Linked DNA regions of Homo sapiens. The protein of the gene in region 3 interacts with the protein of the main gene of each other region in a biochemical or structural test. Each region holds a gene or a part of one and is shown on either strand. Other genes may lie near its edges. The genes, in order: PRRC2B, CTTN, ENG and RTF1.

The links.
Region 1: the proteins of ENG (region 3) and PRRC2B interact on a protein array, tested with the Homo sapiens proteins (one large-scale study listed by IntAct).
Region 2: the proteins of ENG (region 3) and CTTN interact on a protein array, tested with the Homo sapiens proteins (one large-scale study listed by IntAct).
Region 4: the proteins of ENG (region 3) and RTF1 interact on a protein array, tested with the Homo sapiens proteins (one large-scale study listed by IntAct).

What each region holds. Positions count from the first base shown.
Region 1 is NC_000009.12:131,473,923-131,481,890, forward strand, and holds part of PRRC2B (protein PRRC2B), read left to right. Parts: intron 1-531; coding exon 532-2,613; intron 2,614-3,821; coding exon 3,822-4,027; intron 4,028-4,551; coding exon 4,552-4,697; intron 4,698-5,329; coding exon 5,330-5,471; intron 5,472-7,803; coding exon 7,804-7,886; intron 7,887-7,968.
Region 2 is NC_000011.10:70,423,876-70,431,843, forward strand, and holds part of CTTN (src substrate cortactin), read left to right. Parts: intron 1-1,456; coding exon 1,457-1,526; intron 1,527-1,821; coding exon of another isoform or gene 1,822-1,904; exon of another isoform or gene 1,905-2,212; intron 2,213-5,175; coding exon 5,176-5,324; intron 5,325-7,315; coding exon 7,316-7,405; intron 7,406-7,968.
Region 3 is NC_000009.12:127,844,659-127,848,158, reverse strand, and holds part of ENG (endoglin isoform 1 precursor), read left to right. Parts: intron 1-1,023; exon of another isoform or gene 1,024-1,216; intron 1,217-3,500. UniProt on the Homo sapiens protein: Vascular endothelium glycoprotein that plays an important role in the regulation of angiogenesis. Required for normal structure and integrity of adult vasculature. Regulates the migration of vascular endothelial cells.
Region 4 is NC_000015.10:41,420,958-41,428,925, reverse strand, and holds part of RTF1 (RNA polymerase-associated protein RTF1 homolog), read right to left. Parts: intron 1-7,968. UniProt on the Homo sapiens protein: Component of the PAF1 complex (PAF1C) which has multiple functions during transcription by RNA polymerase II and is implicated in regulation of development and maintenance of embryonic stem cell pluripotency.

The DNA.
Region 1 (7,968 bases), 3.6 Mb from region 3:
ATGGTGAGACGTAAGGTGAAGGAGAAGTCCCGGGGTCCTCAAATCCTGGGCACAGGGCAGGCGGGTGGGGGCTTCACAAGGCAGGTGGGGTCCAGAGCATGGGTCTTGGCTCATTTCTGTGGAAGTAAACAGAGTTAGCCCTGCCACCCCCATAGCCCCAGACTCTTCACGGCCTCCCAGGCTCCAGCTTGCTCTTGCTCTTTGACCCGGAGGATTGCCTGGCTCCTCTGTCTCCAGGGGGCACACCGTACCCAGCCTGCGGCCACGACAGTCTTCACTCTCAAGGACTCCAGGGGCCACCGACCAATTCATGGCCTGGCATTTCTGAGACGTGTTTAAAGATAGAACAAATGTTGATGCTTATGTTTTTTTTTGGTTGTTGTTTTTTGTTTTGTTTTTCTAGCTTTCTTTTTAAAAAGTGTTTTAGTTTTTGTTTTTGTTTTTTCTTTTTAAAACTAAGCTCTGTGTTCAGCATGGAAACCAGGAACCAGGCTCCAATCGCATTGACTGATTTTTCTGGTTCCTTTTCAGGAATGAAAGCTCTTTCTCTGCCTCACTCGGAAGGGCAGGGGGCGTAAGTGCTCAGCGCGATCTCTTTGAGGAGAGAGGGGAGGAGTACTTGAGTGCTTTTGACAAGAAGGCCCAAGCAGACTTTGACAGCTGTATCTCTTCTCAAAGAATAGGCCAGGAGCTTTTGTTTCCACCCCAAGAAAATGTTCAGGATGCAGGTGCTCCTGGGGGTCACACCCAAAACCTCAGGTGTTCCCCATTGGAGCCTGACTTTGTCCCAGATGAGAAAAAGCCAGAGTGTGGCAGTTGGGATGTTAGCCACCAGCCAGAGACCGCTGACACAGCCCATGGTGTTGAGCGGGAGACACCCCGGGAGGGGACGGCCTTTAACATCTCCTCCTGGGACAAGAACGGGAGCCCCAACAAACAGCCATCCTCGGAGCCTGAATGGACTCCCGAGCCCCGGAGCTCCAGCAGCCAGCACCCGGAGCAGACGGGCAGGACCCGGAGGTCGGGACCCATCAAGAAACCAGTCCTGAAAGCCCTCAAGGTGGAAGACAAGGAGAAGGAGCTTGAGAAGATTAAGCAGGAGCTAGGGGAGGAGAGTACCCGGCTGGCCAAGGAGAAGGAGCAGAGCCCCACGGCAGAAAAGGATGAGGACGAAGAGAACGATGCCTCTCTGGCCAACTCCTCCACCACCACTTTGGAGGACAAAGGCCCTGGCCATGCCACTTTTGGCCGCGAGGCCACCAAATTTGAAGAGGAGGAGAAACCTGACAAGGCCTGGGAAGCCAGACCCCCACGAGAGTCCAGCGATGTTCCCCCCATGAAGAGAAATAACTGGATCTTTATTGATGAGGAGCAAGCCTTTGGGGTCAGAGGACAGGCCCGGGGCCGGGGCCGTGGTTTCAGAGAGTTCACTTTTCGTGGTCGGCCTGCTGGCGGAAATGGGAGCGGCCTCTGTGGTGGGGGGGTCCTGGGGGCCCGCAGCATCTACTGCAGCAGTCAGCGCAGCGGCCGTGGCCGGGGCCTGCGAGAGTTTGCGCGGCCAGAGGACTGCCCCAGAGCCAAGCCCCGACGGAGAGTTGCCAGTGAGACCCATAGCGAGGGCTCAGAGTATGAAGAACTTCCCAAGCGCCGCCGGCAGAGGGGCTCCGAGAACGGGAATGAAGGCTCGCTCCTGGAGAGGGAGGAGAGCACCTTGAAGAAGGGCGACTGCAGAGATTCTTGGCGGTCCAACAAGGGGTGCTCTGAGGACCACAGCGGTCTAGATGCCAAGAGCCGAGGCCCTCGGGCCTTTGGGCGAGCCCTCCCTCCCCGGCTGAGCAATTGCGGGTATGGACGGAGAACCTTCGTCTCCAAAGAGTCACCCCACTGGCAGAGCAAAAGTCCAGGCAGCTCTTGGCAGGAATATGGCCCTTCCGACACATGCGGATCCCGGCGACCTACAGACAGAGACTATGTCCCAGATTCCTACAGACACCCTGACGCATTTGGTGGCCGGGGCTTTGAGGACAGCCGCGCGGAGGACAAGAGATCCTTCTTCCAAGATGAACACGTGGCAGATTCTGAAAATGCAGAGAACCGGCCCTTCAGGAGAAGGCGCCCCCCACGCCAAGATAAGCCCCCTCGATTCCGGCGCCTCCGGCAAGAGCGGGAGTCCCTGGGCCTGTGGGGACCCGAGGAGGAGCCCCACCTGCTGGCAGGTCAGTGGCCAGGCAGGCCCAAACTGTGTTCTGGGGACAAGAGTGGCACTGTGGGCCGCAGGTCCCCTGAGCTCTCCTACCAGAACTCCTCCGATCACGCCAATGAGGAGTGGGAGACGGCCTCCGAAAGCAGCGACTTCAGCGAGCGGCGGGAGCGGCGGGAAGGCCCTGGGTCCGAGCCCGACTCCCAGGTGGATGGTGGCCTGTCGGGGGCTAGTTTGGGTGAGAAGAAGGAGCTGGCCAAGAGGAGCTTCTCCAGTCAGAGACCCGTGGTTGACAGACAGAGCCGAAAGCTGGAGCCGGGAGGGTTTGGGGAGAAGCCCGTTAGGCCAGGTGGTGGTGACACCTCCCCTCGCTATGAGAGCCAACAGAATGGGACGCCTTTGAAAGTGAAAAGGTAAAACCAGACACCATCTGGGCCCTTTTTGTTGTTGTGTTCTGTTCTCAGCAGCACTGAGTTCACGCATGCATGCCGATGCCGCCGTGTGTCGGGGCTGGGGGCCTGCCCCCAGGCCGTCTGTGCGCGTCTCCATTGCCTGCCCCCACATTGCCTGTCTGCTTCTCGTGGTGGTGTTATTGTGGCTAGAGCTCCCACCCCCACCCCCACCCCAGTGGTGCTCTTGAGGCCACTGTCCAGCACCTGACCTGAGAGTCCAGTCATGTGTCCCTGGAGCCCCGCCGAGGGGCCGCTGCAGCGAGGAACGTTGCCTGTGCACAGTGCCAGGTGCCGGTCAGTCCACCAGAGTCCTCTGCTCCGGAGTTGCTGCCAGGCGGCGTCCTAGGGGGCATCGCTGGCCTCGTGGCTGCATGGAAGTGGCTCTTCCTAGATGGTTCTGCTTCTCCACTGTGAGGAGACGTGGCCCCACGGTGGGGTTGCCACCTCAGCATGGCAGGAGCCCAGCAAACGCAGAGGGGAGCAGGCTGCACATGGTCTGGCGAGCACCTCTTCCACAGCCAGAGGCATTCGGGTGATGACCTCTGCTCAGGGACCAGGAGAGGGTCCCCTGCACAGTCTGGGTTGACTGACTGCACTTGGCTTGTGCCTCGGACAGGGAGGTGCAGGGGCTGCTGAGGCCTTCCCTGTCCTCAGCATACTGAGGAAGATGGCTTCACACCTCCACTCTCCTTAGAATTCAAGGCAGAGAAACTCCCAGAGAAGGAGCCACAGGGAACACCGACTCTTTCAGGTGGCATCTAATCCAGCTTTCCAGGCGCCAGAGGCTGACCCTTGGCTTCACCTCAGTTTTCTGCCCCAAGGGCCCTCCGGCAGGGCAGTCCTGGAGAGGAGCAGAAATGCTGGCGTCTCCATTCTGAGCATATTCCCCTTGTCTCTCTCCCCCCTACACTCTGAACATAGCATGTGGGAGAGCCCTGGGGAGCCACTTTCCCCAGGAGCAGGCAGAGCCGGTGGGGGCAGCCTTACACGTATGTTTGCACACGGACATGGATGCACTGTGGCCAGCCTGCCGCTCCTCCCCACCCGAGGAGTCAGCTAGAGGAAGTGGGCCTAGATCAGGGTGCCGGGCTTGTGTGCAGGCTGTGTGCACGTGCGGTGTTTTCCCTCCTTCCCCAGCTCTGGTTAACAAGATCCTCTTTCCCTTACAGATCCCCAGACGAGGCCTTGCCTGGAGGTCTTAGTGGCTGCAGCAGTGGGAGTGGCCACTCCCCCTATGCCCTGGAGCGGGCAGCCCATGCCAGTGCTGACCTTCCCGAAGCCTCCAGTAAAAAGGCAGAGAAGGAGGCCAAGTTGGCTGCTCCGAGGGCAGGTGAACAGGGAGAGGCCATGAAACAGTTTGACCTGAACTATGGAAGTAAGTCATCCTCATATCTTCAGGGGAAAGAACTCAGGCAGAACCAGGGGCCATGCAGTCCTCGGGCCTCCCGAGTTTGCCCTTGCACTGAGTACCTTAGCTTTCGGAACAGCTCGGCCAGGCCCTGGGCTGGGTTCTGGGGCTGTAGAGGTGAGCAGAGTAGGTAGGATTCCCACCGAGTGTTGCTCACAGCCCGTTGAATCCCCGTGACACCCTGCAGCTTCCGGGCTTTAAAGAGAGGAAGCCTGGGGCCCAGAGACGTTCGGTGGTGTGTCCGAGGTCACACACAGCTGTAGGAGCAGAGCTGGGGTTTAAGCTCTTTGCGTGTTCTCTCAGTTGTGCCCTTGGGCCTCTTTGGTTTGGGGTAACAATGTGTTAGATCAGAGGCGGCCTGAGAAAAGTGCGGAAGTCCTGTCCAGGTTTCTGTCGAGCCTGATGCTAGATCTCAGGCGCCTGTTGAATTGGGTTGTTCTTGTCTCCTGGTGAGTGGAAAGACTGTTCCTTCTCGTGAAATCTTGGTTCAGGTGCCATCATTGAAAATTGCGGGTCCAGCCCCGGGGAGGAGAGTGAGGTGGGTTCTATGGTGGGCGAAGGCTTCATCGAAGTCCTGACCAAGAAGCAGCGCCGCCTGCTGGAGGAAGAGAGAAGAAAGAAGGAGCAGGCCGTGCAGGTGAGGGGCGGAGGGTGGGGGGGCATGGGGCTGGAGGGCAGGCTGGCAGATGCCCAGGAAACCCAGAGCCAGAGGGTAAGGGAGTTCTCGGTCAAGCTCAAGGTGGCAGAGAGGAAGAAAGGAGTATTTAGCAAGCACACATTGTCTCCCCGTTCCTGCTATTACCAAGGCCCTTCTATCAATGTAGGAATAGGTGGTGGCATCACTGTTATGCAGTGGAAGAAACCGAGTCTTGAAGAGGGTGACTTCTCTAGGGTGATAACAGTGGAAACTTGTCCAAGGCAAGATGCAGACCTCCGTCACCTCCCAGCTTCTCCTTCCTCCCCACTCCTCATTCCTGAGTGGAATGAGATTTGTCTCCCTCAAGTCAAGTGGATCGTGAACGCTATACTAAAATGGAGTCAGGGCTGGACCTGCACACAGATTACAGTCCGTTGGCCTTTCAGGTCTTTCTTGGGGGGTGCTTTGCTTGGCATCGCAGTTCTGCTTGAGGTTTTGGGAGACGAGCGTTCCACACATCTCTGGAGCATTTTCAGGTGGTGTGATTTTTGGTACCTGGGATACTTATCCTGGGGAGAATTTGTCAGTCTTGGTGCCTTTGGCTAGACTACAGCATCCTTTCTTCCCCTCAGGTGCCTGTCAAAGGTCGAGGCCTTTCCTCCCGTATTCCTCCTCGATTTGCAAAAAAGCAGAACAACTTATGTCTGGAGCAAGGTGACGTGACCGTGCCTGGCAGCAGCCTGGGCACTGAGATCTGGGAGAGCAGCAGCCAGGGTGAGAGTTGGGGGTGTGACCCCAGCTGTGGCACCCAAGGTCACATCACACACTGGGTTTGCTTCTGGGGAGGATCCTGCTTTTGAGCTACGAATATAGATGGAATACAGATGGAGTACCTGTTTGCTGTGTTCCGCTGCTGAGCTAGTCGCTGAATGCCGTCTGAGTGATTTGCTGCTGCAACCCCCAAACGGATACACAATTTTCCTTGCCTAAAATTGGTAGAAGAGCAGAGCATTCATTAGTCTGGTGATCTGGAAAAGGATGGCCCCTTGGGCTTAGATCACACAGTAGTGGGAATGGCCTTCTTTGTTGGTCGTCGTTTTCTCCCACTAACTTATGGAAGAGAAGCAAATGACAGATAGACCAGCCGCAAGAGTTCAGGAGCTCTCTTCTGTGCTGTGCACCCTTTTCTTAACATGGGGAAGGCTCTGGAAACCCCTCCCTGAATGCTCTTCTGGAAAGGCAAACTGAGACCAGAAGACGGTATACGTTACTTCTTAGAACATTTGTTGCCCTGAAAACTTTTTTTTTTTAATTCTATATCAAATGTAATTTTTCTGGGAATTTTTCCTTATAAAATAGAAAACTATTTTCATAGAATAGGTTCTTCTTGAGGTTTAGGTGAGGCAGGGCCCTGCGCTGTTAGCCCAGAGCATGCATAGATGAATAAAAACATGGACATTCGATATTTCACAGCTCAGGCCCATGAGGGGAGCTTGGAGAGGTCACCTAGTGCCAGCTCATTTTTCTGCAAAGCAGCTGAAGCTTCTAGAGGGAAGGGACTTGACTCAGGGACTCCAGGGTCATAGGACAAGCACCCGAGACACTGAGTTCTGGGCCTTGATTCTTTCACTGTTTCCACATAGCTTGTCCTCATGTGCTCGGTGAAAACTTTGGTTCTTGCAAACTACAAAATAACATTCAACATGCCCAGCTTTGATGGAAAGGAAGCACAACCATTTGATAAAACATCAATAACACTACATTTGGTAGTGGCTGAGTGACAGGTGTCATAGTATTGGTGTCCAAAAATGCCCAGGTGCCAGATTGGTTGAGCTGCCAGGTGTGAATCAGATGTGACTCTCAGGTGTGAGTCATCATCCCCTTTTGTCAGATCTTTTACTCCAGAATTCTGCAGGGGCTCATTGGTTTCTCAGACCAGGGGTTGTGTCCAAGGGATGGCTTCAGAGAGCCCTTGGATATTAAAATAGCATGTGAAAGGATTTTTTTTTTTTTTAAAGATGGGGTCTCACTATGTTGCCCAGGCTGGACTTGAACCCCTGGGTTCAAGCAATCCTTCTGCCTCAGCCTCCTGAGTAGCTGGGATTGCAGATATGTGCCCCCACCCCCTGCTAGCATGTCAACTTTTGCATGCATATCTATTTTTCTGGGCTCCGGATCCATGGCCATTCAAAAAGTGGTCTGTGAGCTTAAAAATTTTTAGTAATACCCGCTGGGATCTTTCAAAGACTCTGTAGAAGCCACCAACTTTGGCCAGGAGTGGTGGCTCACACCTATAATCCCAGCAGTTTGGGAGGCCAAGGCTTGAAGATCACTTGAGATCAGGAGTTCAAGACCAGCAACAGAGTGAGACCCTGTCTCTATTGTTTAAAAAAAAAAGAAGGCCAGGCCTGGTGGCTCACGTCTGTAATCCCACCACTTTGGGAGGCTGAGGCAGGCAGATCACCAGGTCAGGAGATCGAGACCATCCTGGCTAACATGGTGAAACCCCGTCGCTCCTAAAAATACAACAACAACAAAAAATTAGCCGGGCGTGGTGGCGGGCACCTATAGTCCCAGCTATTCGGGAGGCTGAGGCAGGAGAATGGCGTGAACCCGGGAGGCAGAGCTTGGCAGTGAGTGGAGATCGCGCCACTGCACTCCAGCCTGGGCGACAGAGCAAGACTCCGTCTCCAAAAAAAAAAAAAAAAAAAAAGAAAGATATATTTTTTAATGTAAAAAAAGAGAAGCTACCAACTTTTAGAAATAGTATAAGTGAAAAGAAGCATGAGCATAGCGGAAATAACGACAGAGAATCCAGATTGGCAGGAGTGAGGGCTCTGCCCTGCTCACTCTCTCCTGTAATCCATGAGATGTTGAGAAACACGTTGGGTGAGGATGTGGAAAGTTGGGTAAGGCTGTCAGACCAGCTCTTCCACGTCAGAGCCGTTCACTGGGTGTCACGGGTAGGGGGCTGGGGTGGCGGGTGCAGGGGAGGCAGGGGAGTTGGATTTCTGCAAGCTGTGCCTGTGCTTGTTCTTTAAGAGCTCATAAACTCTCTAGACGGGTTGCTCTTTGATGCCCTGACTCTGTCTTCCTCCCCTGGCAGCTCTCCCTGTGCAGGCCCCAGCCAACGACTCCTGGAGGAAAGCTGTCACTGCCTTCAGCAGCACCGAGACTGGCTCTGCGGAGGTGAGTGTGGCCGCTGCCCACATGCTGCCCCTGGGATGAGTGTGTGAGTGTGTGCTCACCATCCACACGGCCAGCTTGCTGT
Region 2 (7,968 bases), on a different chromosome or scaffold from region 3:
CCCCCGGCCTCAGCGTGGAGTCTGGGTTGTGGGGGTTGGCCTGGGCAGAGGGGTGTGGTCCTGAAGAGAGCTGGAGGGGCTCGGGTGGTGGAGAAGCAGGGCATGGTGTTTGGCGCCAAGGGACGCAGGGGAGGGAGCAGTCGGGTGGATGTGGGGTGGACGTGGGGCCAACTGTGGAGCCGAAGAACTGGGAGGAGCAGATGTGGGTGTCAGCGAGAGAGAGCTGGGGTAGGGCCGGGGCCGGGTCCGGGTGGCGTGCAGAGTTGGGAGGGGAGTAGGCACGCGGTCAGAGGACACTGGGCAGGGGGACCCAGTGAGGTAGCAGGGGCCTTGCAAGGCACTGGGACAGACGGAGGGAAGGAGCTCCCCTGTGGGTGAGTCAGAGGTTGTGGCTTTGAGGCCGGAACCTGAGGGACTGCCTGTGTTGTGGGTGTCTGTGGTCAGCATTGCTGGTGTTGGCGGTGACCGCTGAGCTTGTGAGCACGTGAGGAGGCAGTGTGTGGGTGTGGCCTTTCGTGTCATTGTCTTTCATCCAGGAGGGGGTGGAGCTTCTCTCTCTGTTTGCTGTGTGATGGAGGAGTCCAAGGCTTAGAGAGGGTGACGTAACTGCCCGGGTCCCCATACATTGTGGGGATAGGGCTACAACCCAGGCTGGGAGGTGAAGTTGCCCCCTCAGGGCAAGGTGATGTCTGCAGAGGGCCCAGTGGGTGATGGGACCCAGTAAGGCTGATGGCCTTGCCTTTGAACAGGTGCAAGCAGCTCAAGGGACATGGAGTAGACGCTGGAGCTGACTGATGGGAGGAGGGAGCGGGGTCCGAGGAAGGACAGGCGGGCCAGGAAGGGGGCAAGCAGGAGGTGCTGGGCAGAAAGGGGCCATGGTATGGGGGCTCTGGTGGCTTCTGAGCCTCAGGTGTTCTCATCAGAGGTAGTGAAACCCACAGTGAAACTGGGTACGGCCACTGGTCTCCATGAGCCCTGACAGTCTCCACCTGAGTCAGCACGTAAGAGTCATCGCCGTCGCTTGGTCAGACCATAGTTGAGTCCCCTGCAATGCAGAAAGGTGTGATTGCACCACTGGGTAGTGTGTAGGACGGGCCACTGGAGGCTTGCATGTGTCCCCAGCGTCTTCGCTTCCTGTAAATGCTCACACCTCTGGGTGGCGACGGAGGGTGGGGAAGGCTTGAGGCTGATCCCAGAATTGGTTTGTGGTAGAGCAGATGGAGATACATGCATTTCTTATGCTAATGCTGACCCACGATTGCCTGCAAATGTGGTTGGTAATAGTTTTCATGCCTCAGTTAGTTTGCAAAACCGAGAGGCCATGAAGAGTGCTCTGGGCTGTGTGGCTGGGCCTTTGGGAAGATCTGGGGAAGGCATTTGCATCTGGCAGGAGCTACCACAGGGCATGGAGAAAAGAGAAAAGTGCTCTCCTGACGCCCATGTCCTGTCTCTGCAGAATGCGTCAACCTTTGAGGATGTCACCCAGGTGTCCTCTGCCTACCAGAAGACAGTACCTGTCGAAGCTGGTGAGTCCCGGCTGATACCAGGAGCACCGTGTGGTTTCCCAGGAAAACACTGAGGGGAAGGACAGTTGTGAAACAGCCAGGAGCAGATGCACCACTAGTTGAAAGCGTGGTTGTTGCTGCGTATTTTTGGGAAAGAAAATGATCGTTCTGATGAAGATCTTGTTTCTCCTGCAGAGGTTTAGAGTCACCTTTTAGACGCAGCATGGTGCAGCCGTTTCAGTGGGGCCCGTTTCAAGGGGCTCTTCCCAGAGCAAAGGGGCTAAGTGCACATTCACAAGGGCCTCCACACTGCCAGTGACCAGCTTCTGGGAGCAGCTGGGGCCTGCCCAACTCCCTGAGCCGCTCGGTCGCAGCTGTGACAGGAGGAAGACATCATGACGTCGATGTGCAGGCGACAGCAGACATTCTCTCTGCTGCTCGTTCTTGGGCCCTTGACAGGGAGCTCGAAACCTGTCCTTTTCTGTGCTGGACACACGATGGAGTCAGATGTGGGCCCTGCCCCGGAGAGTCAAGTAGTTGGGGAAAATGTTATACATACATGAGAGCAAGTGCTAAATTTAACACAGGATGCAGAGAGCCACCACTGACTTCCTTCAGGGGCTATGGACCCACAGTTCTCAGAGATTGAGGGCCCAGGACGCTTTGACACTTTGACCACTCGTGAGAACCCCCAAGATGTTGATGTATTTGATGACATTGACTATATTAGAAATTAGAGGAATGTGGCCCGGCACAGTGGCTCATGCCTGTAATCCCAGCACTTTGGGAGGCCAAGACGGGCGGATCACGAGGTCAGGAGATCGAGACCATCCTGGCTAACACGATGAAACCCCGTCTCTACTAAAAATACAAAAACAAAATTAGCCAGGCATGGTGGCGGGCGCCTGTAGTCCCAGCTACTCGGGAGGCTGAGACAGGAGAATGGCGTGAACCCAGGAGGCGGAGCTTGCAGTGAGCGGAGTTTGCGCCACTGCACTCCAGCCTGGATGACAGAGCGAGACTCCGTCTCAAAAAAAAAAAAAAAAGAGAGAGAGGAATGGTTTATTTATTTATTTATTTTGAGACCGGGTCTTGCTGTGTCATCCAGGCAGGACTGCTGCCTCAGTCTCCTGGGCTCAAGCAGTCCTCTTGCCTCAGCCTCTGGAGTAGCTGGAACTATAAGCGCATGCCCCCTGCCCAGTTAAATTTTTTTTTTTTTTGAGACAGAGTATCACTTTGTCGCCCAGGCTGGAGTGCAGTGGCGCGGACTCGGCTCACTGCAAGCTCCGCCTCCCATCCCGGGTTCACGGCATTCTCCTGCCTCAAGCCTCCGGAGTAGCTGGGACTACAGGCGCCTGCCACCACGCCCGGCTAATTTTTTTGTTGTTGTTGCTATTTTTTAGTAGAGACGGGGTTTCACCGTGTTAGCCAGGATGGTCTCGATCTCCTGACCTCATGATCTGCCCGCCTCGGCCTCCCAAAGTGCTGGGATTACAGGCATGAGCCACTGTGCCCGGCCAAATTTTTTTATCTTTAGTAGAGATGAGGTCTCACTGTGTTGCCCAGGCTGGTCTTGAATTCCTGAGCTCAAGTGATCCACCTGCCTCGGCCTCTCAAAGTGCTGGGATTACAGGCATGAGCGACATTGGAAAGTTATTAATTGGTTCACTTAAAAAGAATAAACCTTGGCCGGGTGTGGTGGCTCATACCTGTAATCCCAGCACTCTGGGAGGCCGAGGTGGGTGGATCACCTGAGGTCAGGAGTTTGAGACCAGACTGGCCAACATGGTGAAACCCTGTCTCTACTAAAGATACAAAAAGTAGCTGGGCATGGTGGTCCACGCCTGTAATCCCAGCTACTCAGAAGACTGAGGTACGAGAATTGCTTGAACCTGGAGGCAGAGGTCGCAGTGAGCCTTGATTGCGCCACTGCACTCCAGCCTGGGCGACAACAGCTAAACTCCATCTCAAAAAATAAAAATAATAATATAACTGGCCATGCACAGTGGCTCATTCCTGTAATCCCAGCACTTAGTGAGAAGACCGGCATTGTTTTGTTTTGTAAATCTCTTTAATAGAAGATGGCTGCACTCTCACATCTGCCTCTGCAGTCTATCGATGTTACGTTGTTTAGGAAGAACATGTGGAATCACCTAGGTAGGCGATTGGGAAAGGGAGGAGTGTTTGTAACCTTGAGGGCAGCGTGGGTGTCCTTCTGCGACGCCGCCCAAGCGTGCCAGGCAGTGGTGGTCCTGCAGGCCGGCTCCTCTGGCCCTGTGAGGGACTCGCTACCCACTGTGCTTGGGCAGCACTGTGTGTTGGTCATTTGGAAAATGCTGGGTCTCTGAGTTGTGCTCGTCTTCCAGTTGTGGACACTTCTCATTCCACAATACCAAAAAAAATCACATTTGCTGTCATCATCTATTTCATCTGCAGAAGCTGAGTGGAAATCAGCATGTTCATGTGGCAGCCTCACATTTTTCAAAATTCTGTCTTTTACTTGAAAGCTGGAATTTTCCCGTTGGCAACAAATACTCCAGTAATTTTTCTTGACACAATAGGCTTAGTTCATTCACTTGGGAGAAAACTGTTGCCAGATACCCAGCTTTGCATAACCATAGTTGGACTGTCAGTTGTTATTTCAGGGAAAAACGCTATTCCATGAGAAAACAGTCAACTTGCAGCTCTCATGGTTCTATTCATGGTCCTTGAGACACAGACAGCCACCGCCACAGTCCCGGACACAGCAGGGAAGGCTCATGTGTCTTCCCACTTTTTTTTTTTTTTTTTTTTTTTTTTTTTTTGAGACAGAGTCTCGCTCTGTCGCGAGACTGGAGTGCAGTGGCACAATCTCGGCTCACTGCAACCCCTGCCTCCCAGGTTCAAGCGATTCTCCTGCCTCAGCCTCCCGAGTAGCTGGGATTACAGGTGCCTGCCACCAAGCCCAGCTAATTTTTCTATTTTTAGTAGAGACAGGGTTTCACCATGTTGGCCAGGATGGTCTTGATCTCTTGACCTCGTGATCCGCCCACCTTAGCCTCCCAAAGTGCTGGAATTACAGGTGTGAGCCACCATGCCCGGCCATATTCCCCACTTTTGACTTAAATTTTTATCATTTTTTCTTAATAGACACGGGGTCTCACTGTCTTTCCCAGGCTGGTCTCAAACTCCTGATCTCAGTCTTCCCGTCTCAACCTCCCAAAGTGCTGGGATTACAGGCATGAGCCACTGCCCTCTTTTCCATTTTTGTCACACACAATATAAAAAAATGTATACTCTGGTTGAGATTTACTATACTCAGTATACGTCAATTACAGTATACATCAGTACCTTAACTGCTTTATCAAGGACAGATGTCTTTAAGGGAAATTGGCTGTTTTTATTTAAAAAGGTGAGTGTGGTGGTGAAGATACCGTCTTATTTAGAGATCTTCCTGATGCCAGGCTTAGGGGGATTGCCAGTCCCACCAGGTACGCAGTGCCCTGCGGCAGGTGCCCAGTGCTGGCTCCGGACCAGTGGGCTGAGCTGGCAGCTGCAAGAACCTTTCCCTCCTTGGGGGTTAGGGGGATGACCGGTTCCTGGGGAGGTCACTCTGTGTGGGTGGGGCTGTTGTCCAGGAGCAGTGTTTTTGCTGTGCTCAAGGCACACGTCCTCCCTCCTTCCTCTATAGTGACCAGCAAAACAAGTAACATCAGAGCTAACTTTGAAAACCTCGCTAAGGAGAAAGAGCAGGAGGACAGGCGGAAGGCGGAGGCGGAGAGAGCCCAGCGGATGGCCAAGGAGCGGCAGGAGCAGGAAGAGGCCAGGAGGAAGCTGGAGGTGAGTGGCAAGGAGTGGGCCGCAGCGCACCCTCCCTGGGACCTGTGCCGAGGGGATTGGGAGCTCTGGGGCCTGGGCGGGGCTTATTCTCTCCTGGCCAGGTTTTCCTTGGAAGGCATGTTTAACTCTCCTTTAAGGCTCTCCATTAAGGCACTTGTCACTTGCAGCCACACATAGGCTGAGTCTCTGGCCACAATGCTCCAGGCAGCCGGCTAGCGCTATCCTGGTCTTGCCGGTCCAGCCCCAGGACCCGCCAACCTGCCCTGCCCTCTGTCCCTGAGCTGACGGCAGAGTCTTGTCGGCTTCCACCTCCACGGGGCTCCTGTCCAAATGTCAGCCTGAGTCTCTTCTCACCCCTCCCCCTCTGGAAGCCCCTCCTTTCCCAGGTGGAAGTTTGGGGTTTGGAGGGGACTCTGTGCAGAGGCAGCCTGCTCTCGGGGCCTGCTTCTGCTTGGCCAGCCCAGCCCCGCTCACCCAAGCCCCTGGGCTGTGGAGAAGCGCTCCCAGAGAAAGATGCCAGAAGTGCACCCCTGGCAGGGGCGGAGCACGAGCCTGTGTCTGGGTGCTTTGGGTCTAGCCTGGGTGGCTTGCCACTGACAAGGACTTTCCTTGTGCTCAGCTGGATCAGGGGGGTTGTGAATAGAGCCTGAGGCCTACAGATGTGTGTGTGTGAAGTTACCAGGTGTGGTTCTGCAGCTGGGGCATCTGCAGTGTGGGGCAGGCCCAGCCTGTCTGGAAGCCTGGGCTTCTCCTATCCACCCCAGGCCCTGCCCCTGCAGGGCCACACAGGACGTGCTACTTTGGGTGTTTAACCTGTGGATGGCATCAGGTGACGTGGGAATTTACAACTGTCCTGTTGGGGTCAAGCAAGGCCATAGATGCCAGGAACCGTGCTAGGGTCTCAAGACCAGGGGTGGTTTTCTCTTCAAAAAGACAAGACAGCACTACCATTGTTCCCGTTAGAGCAAGGCCGCCTGCAGAGGGAGAGGAGGGAAGGGGTTTGGAGTGGACACCTGGGGTTCAGATCCTGCCTGGGCAGCTCCCTGGCCAGTGTGCCTGTGCCTGCCACCTCACCCTCAGACTCAGCGTCTGGCACTGGAGCCCACAGGCTGTCAGTGAGTTTCCTGTTGCTGCCGTAGTCACCACCACACACAGCACACAGCTAGTGTCTTATAGCTCTGGAGGTCAGAGGTCCTCAAAGATGTCAGCAGGGCTGTGTTCCTCCTGGTGGCCCCTCGGCCCTGTCTTCCCATCTCCAGCCTCTGCTTTTGTTGTCACCGCCCCTCCTCTGTCCCTCACACTCCTGCCTCCCTCCTCTCAGGACCTTGTGATTACATTGGGTCCACCCAGGCAGTCCAGAGTTCTCCCCATCACAGAACCCTTAGTTTCATCACATACACAGTCCCTCCCCATGGGGTCTGGGGACTGCGATGTCAGCAGCTTTGAGGGGCTATTATCCTACCCCAGTTCATCCTTTGGCCCCTAAAGCTTCATGTCCATCCCATGTGCAAACATACTCAGCCCATTTTAAGGTCCCCAAAGTCTCAACCCATTGCAGCATCAACTCAGACTCCCAAATCTGTGCCTAAACTATCTAATCGTGTGTGGGCGAGAATGAGCTGTGGCCCAGTCCCGGCACTGTCGCGTCACTGGCTGTGTGATCTCGGCCTCAGAGCACACCTGCCCCTCGAATCCTGCCTAGGTGCTGGTGGGATCTGAGGCTTGGTGCTCCAGCTCCCCTGCCCCTCGGATCCTGCCTGGGTGCTGGTGGGATCTGAGACTTGGTGCTCCAGCTCCCCTGCCCCTCGGATCCTGCTGGGGTGCTGGTGGGATCTGAGGCTTGGTGCTCCAGCTCAGCCTTGGTGTGGGTGTTTTCCACTCCTTTCCCCAGAGCATGCCTAGAGCTTGCACACGATCTTCTGAAACACGGCAGGCGTGACAGTGCAGAGTGTCATGGCAGCATTCTGATTGCTGTTTGTTTTCAATCACAGGAGCAAGCCAGAGCCAAAACGCAAACGCCCCCTGTGTCGCCCGCACCTCAGCCAACCGAGGAGAGGCTGCCCTCGAGCCCCGTCTATGAGGTTGGTGTCTTTGGTGTTTGAATGAGCGTGAGTGACTTACTGCCAGAGCCCAGGTCCTGTTTGTGGAGTGGAGGAAGCCCTTGCAGGCAGGCAGTGTGGCGTGGGTGTAGAGGGCATCGCTGCATTCCACGCCCGGAGAGGGGTGGGCCAGGAGCGCCTGGGGGGTGGGTGACATGCCTCAGTGCTGTCAGGGGATAGCTGTGCAGGCCCACATGCCATCCTTTCACCCCTCTGCAGCCTGTTGTAGTCTGGCCACTGTCACTGCAGTCCCTGCTGTAGTCACCTGCTATCAGATAATCAGATGGGGGTGTCTTCACCCCACTTGCTCTCTGCTGTGCAGGACGCCGCCTCACTCCCTAATGGCAGTGCTGCCCTCCTTCATCACTGAGCCCCTGCCTCCCGCACAATCTGCCTTCTATGCCTGCCCCATTCAGCTCTCCAGCCTTGCAGCCCCTCATGAGTGTGGCTGCAGACATGCTGTCCGGCCCCTCCCTGTGCTGCTGACCCCCTCTCATGGGTCCCCCAGTGTTCCGTCCCCATCCCTGAGTTACGGAGCCGCCTGC
Region 3 (3,500 bases):
CCAGTTCCTGAGCAACCCCCACTTAGCAGGAGCCGGCCTAGCGCTGTGCAGGTGTAATTTACTGGCCTGCTTGCCGACTCCATGGGAAGCTGTTATGATGACCCTCATCCCCATGTTACAGATGAGAACACTGAGGATGGAAAGGCAGCTGGCAGGTGGAAGAATCAGGACCTGAACCTTTGGCATCTGTCAAATCGCTGTGCTTTTCACCTCTACTGTAGGCTGCAGTGCAGGAACTTGACCCTGCAGGCATCGTAGAACCAGGGGGGAGCCCGGGGCCAAGGCATGCTGAGACCTCCTGGTGGCTGGGGGCAGTGGCTGGGCTGGATGCTGGGAAACCTGTGAGGCTGTAATTGGGCCTGAAAAGGGTAAAGAGTGGCCCGGGGGTACTGAACAAGACGGGGCAGGCATTGCAGCAAGAAGGACCCTTGTTGAAACGTATCTTCCTTGGGAGGCTGAGATGGGTGGATTGCTTGAGCCCAGGAGTTTGAGACCAGCCTGCGCAATACGGCGAAACCCCGTCTCTACAAAAAATACAAAAATTAGCTGAGTGTGGTGGTCCACTTGTAGTTACTCAGGAGGCTGAGGCATGAGAATCGCTTGAACCTGGGACGGGGAGGTTATAGTGAGCCGAGATCGAGACACTGTACTCTGGCCTGGGTGACAGAGTGAGACTCTATCTCAGAAAAGAAAAGGGGGGGTGGCAGCGGGAAGAAAAGTATCTGTCCTAGTATGATGAAATAATATTCACAGCTTCTGTGTCTGGGGCACCTACTTAGTACCAGGCACTCAACAGGGGTTACCCCATCAAACTGACACACTCAGCCTGTGAATGCCTGCTGCTTGCTGGAGCCAGACTGTCTGGGTTTAAATCCAGGCCGTGACACTTAGTAGCTGGGTCACCTCGGGCAGCTGGTCTTCAGTTTCTTTAACCGCCCTGGTCTTCAGTTTCCTGGAGTGTGCATGGGTGTAATAGCGCCGCCCACCTCACAAGGCTGCTGTGAGGATCAAATGAGTTCACTCGTGTAAAGCTGCCTAGGCTCCCAGTAAGCATGATGGGAGCATCTGCAGTGATTATTGGTGGTCTGCAAATGGGGAAACTGAGGCTCAGAGAGGTTAGGCTTCTGCTCAAGGTGACCAGCATTTTAAGAGGCAGAGCTGGGATTTGATCCAGGCCATCTGGCTCCAGAGCTGTTTTTCTTGATCATCCTCCAAGGTGCTGAAGGTAGCCCTCTGGAAATCTGGGAGGTGCTGTGTGCACATGGGTGGCGAGGGTGGAGAGGGGACAGTGGTGGGAGGTGGCTTCTGGGTCTCTCACTTGGGGTTCCAGTCACCCAGGCCCCCAGCGGCTCCTCCTCTGACCCAGTCCCGGGAGGCCCTGGCGTTTCCCTTGGTGCCAGGGGATTGTTTTCAACTTGGTCTGGGCCCGCCTCAGGCTCCGGGAGACAGGCCCAGGCGTCACACTCCCTCCTGTCTCCCCATTCTCGTCTGCGGGGTGGGGGCGGCCAGGATTCGAAAAGGCCCCAAAATAAATGGACCTCTTATCTGATCTCCCCGCCAGGCCTGTTATCTGATCATTACATAATGGCCAGGCTTGTGGCCTCTCCCGCTGGCTGACGGCATGGAGGAGGCGGCCCCAGGCGGCCCCAGCAATCCGGGAGGAACTGGGGTTCCTGGAAGTCTGGGGAGGGGGCAGGGAAAGTCCCAAAGGGAAGGAGGGAGGCGCTGCGATAATCTGCAGGCCAGACACTGGGTCATGTTGGGAGACGCGGGTCCGAGGCCCGGCCTGGTCAACCATGTGCTGTGAGACTTTGACCTGTCCCGTCCCTCCAGACCTCAGTCTCCCCATCTGAGTAGGAGGGGCTTAAGCTAGGTAACAGCCAAGGAACCTGCGCTCACCGATGAGGAAAGGAGAGGGTGGGGAGAACATGGGGGCTGGTGGGTCAGAGGGACTGGAGACAGGAGATGGCACCAGCCCTTGATTTTGTTGGGGTGAGGGAGATCCCAGTGACCTCTCCATCCCAGAGGACCGTCACCTGGAGGCCACCCCATCCCGCCACTTCACCCCACCCCTTAGAACAGTCAATTCTACAGTGACTGAAGTCAGTCAAATAATTGTAATTAAGAGAAAGCTGCCGGCCAGGCATGCTGGCTCACTCATGGTGGCTCACACCTGTAATCCTAGCACTTTGGGAGGCTGAGGCGGGAGGACTGCTTGAGCTCAGGAGTTTGAGACCAGCCTGAGCAACATAGTGAGACCCAGTCTCTACTGAAAATTTAAAAAATTAGCCAGGCGTGGTGGCGCACAACTGTAGTCCCAACTACTTGGGAGGCTGAGGCAGGAGGATCGCTTGAACCCAGCAGCTCAAGGCTGCAGTGAGCTGTTATCACACCACTGCACTCCAGCCCAGGAGACAGAGGGCAACCTTGTCTGAAAAATAAACAAATAGAAATTTAAGAAAGAATTGCCATGTGCCCAGTCTCATGGAGTCCTCCCAGCCACCTCTGTGGATCATGTGGGCTCTGTTGTCATTTTATAGACCAGGTATTGAAGCCCCAAGAGGTGAAATCATTCACCAGAGCCACATAGCTGGTAAGCATTGGGCCTGAGAGGCAAACCAGGTCAGCCTGGCTCCAGGGAGCTTGCTTTTAACCAAAATGCCACTATGTCCAGGCACTCCAGAGTCCCTGGGACATGTAGGATAGGGTCAGAGAGACGACATATAAGGCCTGGGCCCCCGTGGCAGCCAGAAGTCCTCATCCAGATCTTCTCCTTCCCAAGACAGAGCTGGGAATGGCGTTGCCATGGCAAGGGGTGACCATCTCACTTCCTTTGCTGACTTCTGGGGCCCAGAGCCCAACGTGCTGTGGGAAGGTGAGGAAGGAGGCCGGTGAGGCTCCAGACAGCCCAGGGTTCAGAAGAAGCCTCCCTGCCCCCTCCTCTGAGCCGGCCTTGGCTGGACATGAAGCCAGTCTCTCCGCGCCCATCTTTGATCTCCAAGAAAACAGGAAGTGAGCGCGACAAGATGGAGACACAAACTTCCAAACAGTCTCCCCTTCTGTCCTCCTTCCCTCCTCCGGAGCCCCCTTCCCCCGGCACATTCCTCAGGACGAGGTGTAGGAGCCTCATTTCCTTTTCCGACCCTGCTGGGTCAGGGTGAAATTCCATTCCTTTCCCTCAGGACCTGTGTTTCCGGGCTCTGCGGTCTGCTCTGGCAGCCTCCAAACCTGGGCCGCCTTCTCGGCTCGCCCTGTCCCTTGGGGCTAGGGAACTCTCAACCCCTTCAGACCATTCCTCCCACCACCTTGAGGCAAGAGAGGGGAAGCTTTGTCTCCTGAGCTCAGCTCCTGCCTTACCTGGAGGGAGACTTGGGTTCACACCTAGGCCCTGCCATGAAGTTAGGGTTGCCAGATACATCAAATGAAAATCAGCCGGGTGTGGTGGCTCATGCCTGTAATCCCAACACTTTGGGAGGCCGAGGTGGGAGGATCTCTTGAGT
Region 4 (7,968 bases), on a different chromosome or scaffold from region 3:
GTCTCTACTAAAAATACAAAAAGTAGGCAGATGTGGTGGCATATGCTTGTAATCCCAGCTACACAGGAGGCTGTGGGAGAACTGGTTGGGCCCAGGAGGCAGAGAGGTTGCAGTGAGCTGAGATCACACCACTGCACTCCAGCCTGGGCAACAGAGCAAGACTCTGTCTCAAAATAAATAAATAAATTAGCTGGGCATGGTGGCACACACCTGTGATCCCAGCTACTCCAGAGGCAGAGGAGGGAGGATCACTTGAAGCCAGGAGGTCAAAGCTAGAGTGATCCATGACCACGTCACTGCACTTCAGCTTGGGTAACAGAGTGAGACCCTGTCTTCAAAAAAAAAAAAAGGAGTAGGGGGCCGGACACGGTAGCTCACACTTGTAATCCCAGCACTTTGGGAGGCTGAGGTGGGCGGATCACAAGGTCAGGAGATCGAGACCATCCTGGCTAACACAGTGAAACCCCGTCTCTACTAAAAATACAAAAAAATTAGCCGGGTGTAGTGGCGGGCACCTGTAGTCCCAGCTACTCGGGAGGCTGAGGCGGGAGAATGGTGTGAACCCAGGAGGCAGAGCTTGCAGTGAGCTGAGATCACGTCATTGCACTCCAGCCTGGGCAACAAAGCGAGACTCCATCTCAAAAAAAAAAAAAAAAAAAAAAAAAAAAGGGATATCAGTATTGCAGTAGAGGGGTTGGAACAAGAACCCCCAAAGTGACAGTGTCCTTTATCTCTTCAAGTAATCTCAATGTAACCAAGTTAGAAAATGTCCCACCATGTAGCTTGGGTGACACAGTGAGACCCCAGCTCTAAAAATAAAATTAAAAAAAAAAGAAGGCGGCCAGGCATGGTGGCTCATGCCTGTAATCCCAGCACTTTGGGAGGCCAAGCCAGGCAGATCACCTGAGGTCAGGAGATCAAGACCAGCCTAGCCAGCATGGTGAAACCCCGTCTCTACTAAAAATACAAAAATTAGCCAGGTGTGGTGGCGGACACTTGTAATCCCAGCTACTTGGGAAGCTAAGACAGGAGAATCACTTGAACCCGGGAGGCGGAGGTTGCAGTGAGCTGAGATTGCCCCACTGCACTCCAGCCTGGGCAACAAAGAGCAAAACTCCATTTCAAAAAAAAATAAAACTTGACACCATAGGTATGCCAAGTAGCATCTGCTTATTCAACAAAAATTTATTAAGTGCCTACTCTGTCAGGCGAGCATCGGCATAATTATTATTACTGTTATTATTATTTGAGTCAGGGTCTCACTGTCACCCAGGCTGGAGTGCAGTTGTGTGATCATGGCTCTCTGCAGCCTCAACCTCCTAAGCTCAGGTGATCCTCCTATCTCAGCCTCCTGGGTAGCTGGGACTACAGGCACACACCACTACACCCAGCTTATGTAGCTTTTATTTTGAATGAATAGCTGGGACCACAGGCGCATGCCACCACACTCAGCTAATTTTTTAAAAATTTTGTAGGGCCGGGCGCAGTGGCTCACGCCTGTAATCCCAGCACTTTGGGAGGCCAGGGTGGGTGGATCACGAGGTCAGGAGATCCAGACCATCCTGGCTAACACGGTGAAACCCCGTCTCTACTAAAAATACAAAAAATTAGCCGGGCATGGTGGCGGGTGCCTGTAGTCCCAGCTACTCAGGAGGCTGAGGCAGGAGAATGGCGTGAACCCGGGAGGCGGAGCTTGCAGTGAGCCGAGATCGCACCACTGCACTCCGGCCTGGGCAACAGAGCAAGACTCTGTCTCAAAAAAAAAAAAAAAAAAAAAAAATTTGTAGACCAGGCATGGTGGCTCATGCCTGTAGTCCCAGCACTTTGGGAGGCCAAGGTGGGTGGATCACGAGGTCAGGAGTTCAAGACCAGCCTGGCCAACATGGTGAAACCCTATCTCTACTAAAAATACAAAAATTAGCTGGGCGTGGTGGTGGGCCCCTGTAATCCCAGCTGCTTGGCAGGCTGAGGCAGGAGAATTGCTTGAACCTGGGAGGTGGAGGTTGCAGTGAGCCGAGATCACACCATTGCGCTCCAGCCTGGGCAACAGAGTGAGACTCTGCCTAAAAAACAAACAAACAAACAAACAAACAAAAATTACACACACACACACACACACACACACACACACACACACACACACATATATATGTAGCGGCTGGGCACAGTAGACTCACGCCTGTAATCCCAACACTTCAGGAGGCCGGCGGGGGGGGGGGGCGGGGGGGGGGGGGGGCGGGGTGGATCACCTGAGGTCAGGAGTTCGAGACCAGCCTGGCCAACATGGAAAAACCCCATCTCTACTAAAAATACAAAAAAATGGCCAGGCACAGTGGCTCACGCTTGTAATCCTAGCAGTTCGGGAAGCCGAGGTGGGCAGATCATGACGTCTGGAGTTCGAGATCAGCCTGGCCAATATGGTGAAACCCTGTCTCTACTAAAAATACAAAAAATTAGTCAGGCATGGTGGCGCACGCCTGTAGTCCCAGCTACTCGGGAGGCTGAGGCAGAAGAATCGCTTGAATCCAGGAGGGGGAGGTTGCAGTGAGCAGAGATCGTGCCACTGCACTCCACCCTGGGCGACAGAGCGAGACTCTATCCCAAAAAAAAAAATAAAAACAAACAATCAAAAAAATTAGCTGGGCATGGTGGCATGTGCCTGTAATCCCAGCTACTCAGGAGGCTGAGGCACGAGAATCGCTTGAACCCAGGGCGGAGGTTGCAGTGAGCCAAGATGGTGTCACTGCACTCCAGCCTAGGCAACAGAGCGAGACTCCACCTCCAAAAAAAATTTTTTTTTTTTGTAGAGATCAGGTTTCATCATCATGTTGCCTAGGCTGATCTCAAACTCCTGAGCTCAAGCAATCCTCCCACCTCAGCCTCCCAAAGTGCTGGGATTACAGGCATGAGCCATTGTGCCTGGCCCTCAAGTGTTATTTTCAACTACCTACTTGATGTCTCCACTTAGACATCTCATAGTCACTTCGAACTCCACATATCCCAGACTGAATGCAGGATCTTCACCTCTAAACCTGCTCCTCCAGCACTCCCCATCTCATGCCAGTGCCTGGCATCAATCCTAAATACTCCTCTTCTCATCCTAACATCTAATCAGTCCTCAGTCTTCAAGGCCTTTTAGTTCTACATACTGAACATCATGTCCAACCAATTCCACTATCTGTCATCTCTATAACAACCATATCAATCCAAGTCAGTCCTTCATTTAATAAATACTGACTGGGTGCCAACTGCATATAGGCACTGCTCTAGATGCCAGGGACAGCATAGTGAACACATACGGTTACCCTCCTGGCGCTTCCATTCTAATGGAACTTATGTTCTCCATCATCTCTCATCTGGACTCCTCTCTCTGCCACTTCATTAGTGTCCCCCTCCATATTACTCTCCACAATAGTCTGGGTAAGGCAAATCTGAAAATCTTCTCCAACTTAAAATCCTTCAATGGCTTCCTATTACTCTCAGAATAAACTCCAAAGTCTCTACTAAAAATACAAAAATTGGCCAGGCGCGGTGGCTCACACCTGTAATCCCAGCACACTTTGGGAGGCCGAGGCGGGCAGATCATGAGGTCAGGAGATCAAGACCATCCTGGCTAACATGGTGAAACCCGTGCCTACTAAAAATACAAAAAAAAAATTAGCCGGACACAGTGGCAGGCGCCTATAGTCCCAGCTACTCGGGAGGCTGAGGCAGGAGAATGGTATGAACCCGGGAGGCGAAGCTTGCAGTGGCAGAGACAGCGCCACTGCAGTCCGGCCTGGGCAAAAGAGCGAGACTCCGTCTCAAAAATAAAAAACAAAAATTAGCCAAGTGTGGTGGCACACACTTGCAGTCCCAGCCACCGGGGAGGCTGACGCCCTCCAGTGGCTTTAAATTTTTTTCTTTTTTTCTTTTGTTTTTTTTAGACGGAGTCTCTCTGTCACCCAGGCTAATACAGTGGTGATCTCGGCTCACTGCAACCTCCGCCTCCTAGGTTCAAGGGATTCTCATGCCTCAGCCTCACCAGTGGCTGGGACTACAGGTGTGTGCCACCGCACTTGGCTAATTTTTGTATTTTTACTAGAGATGGGGTTTCGCCATGTTGGCCCGCCTGGTCGAACTCCTGGCCTCATATGATCCACCCACCTCGGCCTCCCAAAGTGCTGGGATTAAAGGCGTGAGCCACTGCGCCTGGCCAAAAAACTTTTCTCTTTTTAACGCAGCCCACAGGAAGATAAATTATACCTCACAACCCAGTATACATCTACATGTACATATGAGACACACAAATTTCATCACTTATATTTACTATGTATGACACATTTGATGTTTTCTATCAATTCAATTTTATTTTTACTGCTGAGTGTAGTCCGTAAACTGACTTCTCCATCCTCAAAGGGTCAAAACAGAATCTACCTCTACAGTTTCATTTGTACTATTCTCTCTCCAACTATGCAACTAGTTTATGTTACTCACTCTGTGCTTCTTTCAGTTTCATAAGGGTTCGAGGTCCTTCCTGTCTCATTTCTTTTATATATGCTGGTGCCTCAACCATGAACATTCAACACTCTTCCCTTTACTCTTCAGTCTTCTAATCTGCTTCTCCTTAACACATATTCCAGGTCTGTTTCAATGTCACTCTCATCAGGCTAGAATAGGGTCCCTGGTTAATATTTCCACAGTATTCTTGTCCTTGCTTCATGGCCTGTAGTGCAATTGTAAGGAAATTACTCTCTCTGAGCAATCTCCCCACCTCATCTCTCTCTCATTCCACTTTACACTCCTTGAAGGTGGAAACTGCTTCCATTTTGTTCACCCAATAGCTCTAGTGTCTAACGCTGTCTAATACATCTGTTGAACGATGAACAATCAGGCCGGATGCGGTGGCTCATGCCTGAAATCCCAGCACCCTGGGGAAGCCAAGGAGGGCGGATCACTTGAGGTCAGGAGTTTGAGACCAGCCTGGCCAACATGGTGAAACCCCATCTCTACTAAAAATACAAAAATTAGTCGGGCATGGTGGTGCATACCTGTAATCCCAGCTACTTGGGAGGCTGAGGCAGGATAATTGCTTGAACCCGGGAAGCGGAGGTGGCAGTGAGCTGAGATCGTCCCACTGCACTCCAGCCTGGGCAACAAAGTGAGACTCCATCTCAAAATAAATAAATAAATAAATAAAAATAAATACACCAATATGACCTGTGTCTGAAGATCAGTTTTGTATTTTTCCTAAAAGCCTCACTGTTAAAGCTCCCAGGGCTGGGCGTGGTGGCTCACCCCTGTAATCCCAGCACTTTGGGAGGCCGAGGTGGGTGGATCATCTGAGGTCGGGAGTTTGAGACCAGACTGACCAACATGGAGAAACCCCATCTCTAATAAAAATGTAAAATTAGCCGGGAGTGGTGGCGCGTGCCTGTCATCCCAGCTACTCGGGAGGCTAAGGCAGGAGAATCACTTGAACCTAGAGGCGGAGGCTACAGTGAGCCCAGCGTGCCATTGCTCTCCAGCCTGGGTGACAGAGCAAGACTCCATCTTGGGTGGGGGCTGGGTGGGGAGGGAGCTCCCATGGGACTCACTCTTTGAAAAGAGTGAAATTAACAAGCGAATTACATCAAGCTAGATGCAACATGACACAAATTAAAGTTTTCACAAATTAACACTGACACTTCTCACAAACTCTTCCTACACTTCAAAATTTGCCTCTGATTAATGCGGAAAACACTACATTAACAAGAAGCACAACTTTTAAATTTCTCAAGATTTATGGGGAAGGTTTATAGAAGTATACTTTATAATAATAATATTCTTTACATGTAGTATCTAAAAACAGCTCCTAGAAAATACTTACAGGGCTGGCCGGGCACGGTGGTTCACGCCTGTAATCCCAACACTTTGGGAGGCCGAGGAGGGTGGATCACGAGGTCAGGAGTTCAAGACCAGCCTGGCCAAGATGGTGAAACCCCGTCTCTACTAAAAATACAAAAATTAGCTGGACGTGGTGGCGTGCGCCTGTAATCCAAGCTACTCGGAAGGCTGAGGCAGAGAATTGTTTGAACCCGGGAGGCGGAGGCTGCAGGAGCCAAGATCGCGCCACTGCACTCCAGCCTGGGTGACAGAGCGAGACTCCGTCTCAAAAAAAAGAAAAAAGAAAATACTTAGGGGGGCCTATTCTCTCAAAGACAAATTTAATTATTGCTACTTCAAGTTAGATAAACAGAGAAAAACAGGACATGACAATATAATCTCCATTTTAAATAAGAAACCTATAAAATAAAGCATCCCAGTGTGCACATAGCTCAATTTTTAGTTTTTTAGAAAGGTAGAGTAAAATTTTTATAAATACGGAGTTGTACTGATTTGAATTGAGAACTCTGGTTCCTTTATTATCTTGAATGCTTTTCATTTTATAGGACTTACTGCATAAATATTATTCCATAAAGGGAGATGACATAGAGCCCAGAGGTTTGCCTCAAATTATTATTTCCCAATAGGCACCAACAGCAAGTATCTTGAAATTTAAAAATGTTGAAGAAAGGGTGTGGTCAAAATAAGGACAGAGTCACTATCAGGTCAAATGCTAAAAGAAAAGCTTTCAAACTCTCAAACTAGGTCTTAGTTTTAAAAACTTTCAAAGGTTAAAATAAGGCCAGGTGCTGGATCACCTGAGGCCAGGAGTTAGAGACCAGTCTGGCCAACATAGCGTCTCTACTGAAAATACAAAAAATTAGCCAGGTGTGGTGGCAGGCGCCTGTAATCTCAGCTACCCAGGAGGCTGAGGCAGGAGAATTGCTTGAACCCAGGAGGTGGAAGGTGCAGTGAGTCGAGATCGTGCTATTGTACTCCAGTCTGGGCGATAGAGTGAGACTCCATCTCAAAAATAAATAAATAAACAAACAAACAAATAAATAAATAAGGCCTGGTGTGGCAGCTCACACCTGTAATTCCAGCACTTTGGGAGGCCAAAGCCTGAGAATCACCCAAGCCCAGGAGTTTCAGACTAGCCTAGGCAATGTAGTGGGACCCCCATCTCTACAAATGATTTTAAAAATTAGCTGGGTGTGGTGGTGCACACCTGTAGTCCCAGCTACTTGAGAGGCTGAGGGGGAAGGATCACTGAGCTAGGGAGGTCAACGCTACAGCCGTGAGCTGTAATTGTGCCACTGCACTCCAGCCTGGGTGACAGGAGTGAAACCCTGCCTAAAAAAAAAAAAAAAAAGAACCAGTAGTTTTGCCATCTTAAAACCTCCCTGTCAAGTTCTTTTAGTTATACAAGTGCCTTTTTTTTTTTTTTCTTTGGGACAGGGTCTCACTCTGTTACCTGGGCTGAAGAGAAACGGTGGGACCACAAGTAACTGCAACTTCAACCTCCCAGGCTCAAGCAATCCTCCCACCCCAGACTCCCAAGTAGCTGAGACTAGAGGCACGCCACCATGCCCAGCTAATTTTTAAATTCTTTTTTTTTTTTTTTTAATACAGAGTTTCACTCTTGTTTCCCAGGCTGGAGTGCAATGGCACGATCTCGGCTCACCACAGCCTCCACCTCCTGGGTTCAAGTGATTCTCCTGCCTCAGCCTTCTGAGTAACTGGGATTACAGGCAAGCACCACCATGCCTGGCTAATTTTGTATTTTTAGTAGAGACGAGGTTTCTCCATGTTGGTCAGGCTGGTCTCAAACTCCCAACCTCAGGTGATCCGCCCACCTCGGCCTCCCAAAGTGCTGGGATTACAGGTATGAGCCACTGCACCTGGCCAATTTTTAAAGTCTTTGTACAGATGAGGTCTCACTTTGTTGCCTACGCTGATCTCAAACACCTGGGCTCAAGTGTTCCTCCCACTTTGGCCTCCCAAAGTGCTGAGATTACAGGGCATGAGCCACCATGCCCAGCCTATACATGTACGCTTAATTTGGAAGTACTATGGCAGACACAGGAAGCTATTTCTCTTCTAAATACTTATAGTGTGTTACTA